Linked DNA regions of Homo sapiens. The protein of the gene in region 1 purifies or fractionates together with the protein of each later gene. This does not show direct contact. Each region holds a gene or a part of one and is shown in the gene's direction. Other genes may lie near its edges.

Region 1 (3,818 bases):
GCCATCAGCAGGCCCTGGGCATCATGACAGTGCAGGGGCCACAGGTGGCAGGACTTGGCACACCTGTACCAGTCAACTCAGACCTTAAAGTGCTTCTGTGGCCAAAAATGCAGACAAATTGTATGTCCAAATTTTTAAGTCTGTCCTATAGGCAATTTTGATCAGTAGATGGTACAGCCAGGGCTGTAGGAGGAGAAATGAGGGCCAGTACAAATCCAGATCTAACTGCCCCTCATCAAGGTGACAGCAAGGATGAGAATGGGAAGTTTGTGACCAGACGGCTGAATTGCTGCTCTAAAGAACAGTTGTAAAAACCAAATATAAAGTCTAATACAGGAGTTCTTTAAGTGAGATAGGCTAAACGTGGCCCATCATCTCTCTGAAGCTATAAGCAAAAGTATGGTATGTGTGTGTATGAATGTGCAAGAATAATTTTTCAGGGAGAAAGGTTCATGGTTTTTATTGATGTCTCAAGAAACTTTTAGCATTGTTTATGAAACTGGGTTTTTTTCTAATTTTAATTCGATTTACTTGTGTTCAGTAGCTATTTATTGAAGAAATAAATACAGCAGTCTTTGTATTTGCAGTCTCCCTGGATAGATAAGATGTAACCATGGGGAAAAATAAATTACAAATCTACAATCAAGTTTTGGACCAATCTAGAAATGATTATTCCTCAGAAATCTATCTTTATTTACAATGAAGGAAGGTTCAATAAGAGGTACAAGGAGGTAAAAGATGTATACCTTACTTTTAGTAATATATGATTGATAAGAAGAATGATTGGTAAGAAAATGATTGCATACCTGCAACTTTTTAAAAAAGGACAATATACACTTTGGGAGGCCAAGGCGGGCAGATCAAGAGGTCAGAAGATCCAGACCTTCCTGGCTAACCCGTGAAACCCCGTCTCTACTAAAAATACAAAAAGAAATTAGCCAGGCATGGTGGCGGGAGCCTGTAGTCCTAGCTACTCGGGAGGGTGAGGCAGGAGAATGGTGTGAACCCGGGAGGCGGAGCTTGCAGTGAGCCGAGATCATGCCACTGCACTCCAGCCTGGGCAATAGAGCAAGACTCTGTCTCAAAAAAAAACCAAAAAAAAACAAAAAAAAAAACAATATAAATGAATCCAAAATCAAGTAATAAGGTGTGTTTTATGTCATGAGATGCAACTGAAATTCAGAAAGAAAGAAAAAAGATTAATTTGGTGTAATCAAGAAGACTTCATGGAAAAGGTAGAGCAGAGCTGAGCATGGGGGAAGACAGTACCGAATAATTCAGACAGGCTCAGCAGTCAATGTGCTGCAGTAAATTCCCAGATCTGCCTCTTAGGAATTGTGTGACCTTGGATACCTGATATCTTTATGTCTCTGGGACTCAATCCAGTTGTAGGAGGATTACATGAAACAATAAATGTAAAGTGTTCAGAACATGACCAAGCACATAATTCATGCCTAATAAATGGTTTTATCTTCACCAATTCCTTTACCCGTAACTGGGATGACCCAAGCAGAGAACTGATCCATCTGAAAAAGCAGCTACTGACATCACAGTTAAAGTATTGTTTTTCTAATAGTCTTTTAGAGGCCCTCAGAGATGCTAATGCATGATTAAGCAGCTGTACTTTCTGAAGAATTCTTCTTGGGCCACCCCAGTAAATTCTCCAAATACCTCAAAACAGGGCGTTTCACTAAGGGCCTTGCACTCCAGTTATTCTAGTATATGTCAGAATCTTCATGACCCACCTCCTGCTTCAGATGTGTGCCTGAATGACAACGATGGATCTCAGCAAAATTGACAATAAATAAGCAGGGGCAGCAATGACAGTAATGTTTCACACGTCTGAAAGTGAAGAAGTAATTTTAAATGGCTGTTTTCTTTTTTCAGGTGATCCAGATCATGGTTGGATTGATGCACATTGGTTTTGGAATTGTTTTGTGTTTAATATCCTTCTCTTTTAGAGAAGTATTAGGTTTTGCCTCTACTGCTGTTATTGGTGGATACCCATTCTGGGGTGGCCTTTCTGTGAGTAGATTGCTAGAACACCAGTCCTTCTTGGTTTATAAAGTATTCCCTCTTGGTTTATAAAGTATTGCTATCTCCAGCCAATTCACAACTCATTTCTTGATAAAGCCCTACATCTGAGGGCTGGAGAATTTAGAAAAATTAACAGCTCTGAATGAGGGCTGGAGAATTTAGAAAAATTAACAGCTCTGAATGAGCATGAAAAAATCGGGAACTCTTTCGCCATTTTACCTAGGAGCTTATTCCATTCTTTAAAATTTAATCATGTAATCAGCAAGCCAAAGTTTTGATATCCTACTACATTTGAGATGGAAATGTATGTATTGGGTGGAGAGAGAAAGAAAAGAAAAGGTGATTGGAAACATGATTAAAAATATGCAAGTAAGCCAGGCATAGTGGTGTGTGATTGTAGTCCCAGCTACTTGGGAGGCTGAGGCCAGGGAATTGCTTGAGTTCAAGAGATGGAGGCCAGCCTGGGCAATATAGTGAGACTCAATCTCTAAAAAAATTTTTTAATTAAAAAAATGCAATTGATTATGAGAAGGGATGGAGCAGTAAGCCTCAGAACAAGGAATGCTTAAACATTGTGAGTTCTTCATAGGCCAGAAATTAAGGAAAAGAAAATAAAAAAGAAGTCAAGGACATATGACTGAGAGTTACTCCAGAAAATTCAGAAGTGCGAGAGAAAATTTTGAGAAGGAAACTAGATGAACATAAATAGACCAACCTTTCATATAAAGAGAAATTCCCAAGCACAACCAGTTAACCCATTTCACAAATAAATTTGTCCATTTCCACAGTTTATTATCTCTGGCTCTCTCTCTGTGTCAGCATCCAAGGAGCTTTCCCGTTGTCTGGTAAGTTAGACTGTCTCTACTTTTTGAACCCCTTTAAAGATTAGCTTAACATATTGGGGAGGAAAATTGAAAAGCTGGATTTGGGAAATGCAAAAGGGAGCACCTTTCCCAAAAAAAATCTATTGGTTGCCTTATGGTCTGAGCGCTGGGGTGAGAAAATGGTCCACACAGTTTGCCACTAAGAAATGGCAGAGCTCCATATCCTGACTCTTGAATTCACAAAGGTGAGAAGTAGTAAAAATCAGGGTTGTTTAAGCTTTAACCTAAAAGCTCCCTGGTTCAGTCTGGTCACACTCTATTATGGGAAGTCCAAAGGAGAATCCAGGAGCCAGGAAATACATACTAGACACATCAGTTACCAAGTCTCTACTGTTCATTTGCCACTTCTCAGCTCTGTCTTGTATTTTTATTTTTTTATTTGTGCTATTTCCTACTCTTACACAGGTTGTGTGTTTTACAATTCTTTAAATTGCCATTAAATGAGTCTAGCTTGTTCTGTAAGAAGAGTTTATAAAAATGATGAGTAAGACAGGACTTTGAGCTCTGTCGGTCACAGCACCCCACCTATTCCAATTTCGTGGTCTACTATTGAACCAGGAAAAAGAAAGTGATTTATCAAGAACTAGAGTCAACTAGAGCAGAGGTGGTGTCAAGATTATATGTAATCCAGTACAAGAAAGAAGAACGGGGAAAGAGGAACACAGAATCATGTAGCTCATGCTCTTGCAGACAAAAGAAGAATAAAATAATTAAATCAAATTAAAATAAAATAAGCCTAATTCTGATTAACCACTCCTGTTGCAGTCCAAAAACAAAATAAAGCACCCTTTCTCTGCATCTTTTAAGGATCCTTCCGTCTAATTGAGATTGTCGAAGCATAGATTCCACCTCTTAGAGGAGACAGCCACTGACACATACCTAAGACAATTTTTCTAA
Region 2 (3,818 bases), on another chromosome or scaffold:
GGGGAGCAAATGAGTTACATTTGTAAAGTGCTTAGAACAGTGCTTGGCACAAAAGAAGAGTTAAATAAACATTTAATACTATTATTTTACTACTTTTTTTTCTTTTTCTGTTTTTCTTTTTTCTTTCCTTTTTTTTTTTAGACACGGTCTCTGTCTGTCGCCCAGGATGGAGTGCAGTGGCATGATCTTGGTTCACTGCAGCCTGGAACTCCCTGGGCTCAGGTGATCTTCGCACCTCAGCTTCCGGAGTAGCTGGGACTACAGACATGCACCAGCATGCCCAGCTAAATTTTGGTGGTGGGGGGTATCTTTTGTAGAGACGGGGTTTTGCTATGTTGCCCAAGCTGGTCTCGAACTCCTGGGCTGACGTGATTCTCCCACCACAGCCTCCCAAAGTGCTGGGATTACAGGTGTGAGCCACCATGCCTGGCTTTTTTTTTTTTTTCCCCTCGAGACAAGGTTTTGCTCTCTTGCCCAGGCTGGAGTGCAGTGGCATGATCATGGCTGACTGCAGCCTCCAACTCCTAGGCTCAAGGTATCTTCCCCACTTGGCCTTCAAAAGTGCTGAGATTACAGGGGTGAGCCACCCCACCCTGCCTACTACTACTTTTTTTTTTGAGATGGAGTCTCACTCTGTCGCCCAGGCTGGAGTGCAGTGGCATGATCTAAGGTCACTGCAACCTCTGCCTCCTGGGTTCAAGTGATTCTCCTGCCTCAGCCTCCCGAGTAGCTGGGACTACAGACGCATGCCACCACACCCAGCTAATTTTTGTATTTTTTTAGTAGAGACGGGGTTTCACTGTGTTGGCCAGGCTGGTCTCGAACTCCTGACCCTGTGATCTGCCCAGCTCGGCCTCCCAAAATGCTGGGATTACAGGTGTGAGCCACCGTGCCTGGCACCTACTACTACTTTTATGCTCACTTGTGGATATATTCTTGCCTTTCTCTCTGAAGTGGGTAGGGGTAGAGTAAGGATATTTGTATCTCTTTGTTACAGATTGGAAGACTGAGACTCAGGTTTCGTAGTAACAGAGCTCGCTTCCATCTTCCCCTCCTCCCCTCAGACCACATGGCCTTGCTTTGATCCAAAGCCCTAACTTAAATCTTGCCCAGTAACTCCACTGAAAAAGCTTATATCACTCCTGTAATCCCAGCACTTTGGGAGGCCGAGGTGGGCAGATCATGAGGTCAAGAGATCGAGACCATCCTGGCCAACATGGTGAAACCCTGTCTCTACTGAAAATACAAAAATTAGCTGGGCGTGGTGGCATGTGTCTGTAGTCCCAGCTACTCAGGAGGCTGAGGCAGGAGAATCCCTTGAACCCAGGAGGCAGAGGTTGCAGTGAGCCAAGATCGCGCCACTGCACTCCACTCTGGTGACAGAGCGAGACTCCGTCTCAAAAAAATACACAACAACCCCCCCAAAAAAAAGCTTATAAGTTATAGCTCTCCAACCCCCACCATGCACACACTCCTTAATGGTAAAATTAAAAAGTTAGCTAGAAGTAAAATGCTCCATCACTCTCTGGACACACCTCAACCAAAACCTCAATATCAGACTAGAGAAACTGGGATATAGCTGGTGCAGGCACCTCGTGGAGTGGAAGAACTGCCACCTCCCATCCCCAAGGTATTCTGCCTCAATGTCTTCCCTCTTCTCAGTTGCTCAGCCCAGTGCTGGCTTTGAGAGCAGCTGCCCTTGATGAAACTCAACCCAGCAACCCCACCCCCACAATTAAAAGCTTGGAGCAGCCCTGTCAACTGGCAGAGCTGCCAGCCCAGGCTCCACCCCTTACCTGTCCTGTCACTGTGCAAGTTGCTTCCCCTACTGGGTTCCTGCTTCCTCCCTGTAAAATGGGGATAGTGATCTGAGTGTGCCCTGCCTTCCTCCCATGCAGGTGGGAAGATTAATGCTGTTGTGGAGGGGAGAGTACTTTGTGACCCCAAGGAGGCGGACAGCAGAGGAGCATGGTGATTTCAGTTACTAACCATCTAGCTAGATCCTGTCCACCCTGCTGGGGCCACTTCATGTAGAAGCTTCCAAAATGCTCTACCTTTCTTTGGTGTGGAGAAGACAGGAGTTGATAGGAATGGTACTCTGGGGCTTGTTCTCATTTCATTCTGATCTGATGGAGCCTTGGAATTCAGAGAGAGAAACAGGCAAGGGGTGGGAATAGAGTGTTGAGATTGCTGGAGTACATTGGAGTTGAGAATTGAGAAAGGGGGACTAGTTAGAGTCCCCCCAACCCAAGATACCTATACCTACCTTTAACCTCCCATAGTGCCCCAGGGTTCTGTGCATCTTATGTTTACATACCCGGGCTCCCAGACACACCCATGTTCACACCCCCACTTCGAAGCCAACAACTCCCTTCATTTCCGTGGACTGCCATGCAGTCACCTAGCTCCTCCTGGACACAGGTCCACACATCAACACACATTTACATACCTGGACACACACATTTCCACAGCACCCACAGGTTCTCTGGCCTGAGAACATTTAATGAGCATTTATAAAGCTTCCATGGTCTGCCGAGTCCTGTTCTAGGAACATCAGAAAAGCACCGTGGTGCCCTGAAAATCATTCTAGCTTTAGAAAGAAGGTGAGCTAGGTTTGAGTCCTAGGTCCCTCATTTTATTAGCAGTGTGACCTTGGGAAAGTTACTTAACCTCTGAGGCCCTGTGCCCCCACCCTAAAATGTCAGTGACACTCAATTCAGGATCGTCGAGGATTAAATGAAATCATGTAATATATTATTCTTGAAACTGAGGGCACTGGACAAATGGTACCCAATACAATTACTAAATTAGTGTGTTTTTAAAGGCAGCTTGGACTGGAAAAGGAAGAGGCATAACACACCAGCACACACTCCTTTAGTCTTCCTAATCCAGGCTTTGCAGAGACTCCCTGGGACCAAGTGAAACACATAAACAACTCCATCCTCCCCTCCATCTGAGGGCTTCTGCCTCTTGCCCTGTGGTTGAAGTGTTAGGAAGAGGCAGGAGAAACCCTCTGAGTCCCCCTGGGGGCTAAGGGATGCTGCTCCCGAAGTTGCAGTCACTGTTTCTAGTTTTGTTGTTCTCTTTGGTTTTCCTTTTTCTTCCCTGAGGACCTCCTCCCCTGCTCCACAGCCCGCCCCCGAGGCAGAGCTTCAGTGTTGTCAGCAGAAGGGTCCCCCAGGGACCCCCCAGTAAAATGGGTGGGGCAGTGCTGCATCTGTTGAGGCCACACTTCTCCGCTATCCTGGGATCCTCCCCAGGGCCCCACTCTGCTCTGTCCCCAAGCACTTTGAGAACCCAGGCACTCAGGCTGGCTGTCCCTTTTCTCCTCCTGCCCACCCCATCCACTCTGAGCATCAATGCAGCCGGCCAGTTGCAGGCAACCAGGCAGCACCCTGGCTGCCCAGGCAGGCTAAGAGGCCCCCACCCACTCCCCCCTCCTTTGCCAGTGGAAAAGCTTGCCGTAGGGCATAGCTTTCCCAGCCTTCCCTGCTTCAGAGGCAGGAGCATGGCACTCTGGGAGTTGTAGTGCTCATAACACTCAGGCGATCCCTGTGCAAATAACTGGAGAGAGGACTATGGTATGGGGAAGAGAAATGAGAATAAGCAGGAGTGGCTGGGGCCAGGCAGGTAACTCAAACCCAGAAGTCCTACTATTTACTTGACTTCCTACTCTGACCCATCGTCGAACCTAAGCCAGTTATATTGAGTTCAAAACTCTAACCAAATGAAATCATGCCATTTTTTCTAATAGGCATAGAAAGAAAAGATCAGGATGAGGCAGCTGGCTCCTGACCCATTCTCCCCTGACGTGGAGA

The links.
Region 2: the proteins of MS4A12 (region 1) and TMEM63B purify together in Homo sapiens (affinity purification with mass spectrometry; one large-scale study listed by BioGRID and IntAct). This does not show direct contact.

The regions. Positions count from the first base shown.
Region 1 is NC_000011.10:60,499,158-60,502,975, forward strand, and holds part of MS4A12 (membrane-spanning 4-domains subfamily A member 12), read left to right. Parts: intron 1-1,887; coding exon 1,888-2,025; intron 2,026-2,825; coding exon 2,826-2,882; intron 2,883-3,818. UniProt on the Homo sapiens protein: May be involved in signal transduction as a component of a multimeric receptor complex.
Region 2 is NC_000006.12:44,130,319-44,134,136, forward strand, and holds part of TMEM63B (mechanosensitive cation channel TMEM63B), read left to right. Parts: intron 1-1,898; exon of another isoform or gene 1,899-1,968; coding exon of another isoform or gene 1,969-1,971; intron 1,972-3,818. UniProt on the Homo sapiens protein: Mechanosensitive cation channel with low conductance and high activation threshold. Osmosensitive cation channel preferentially activated by hypotonic stress.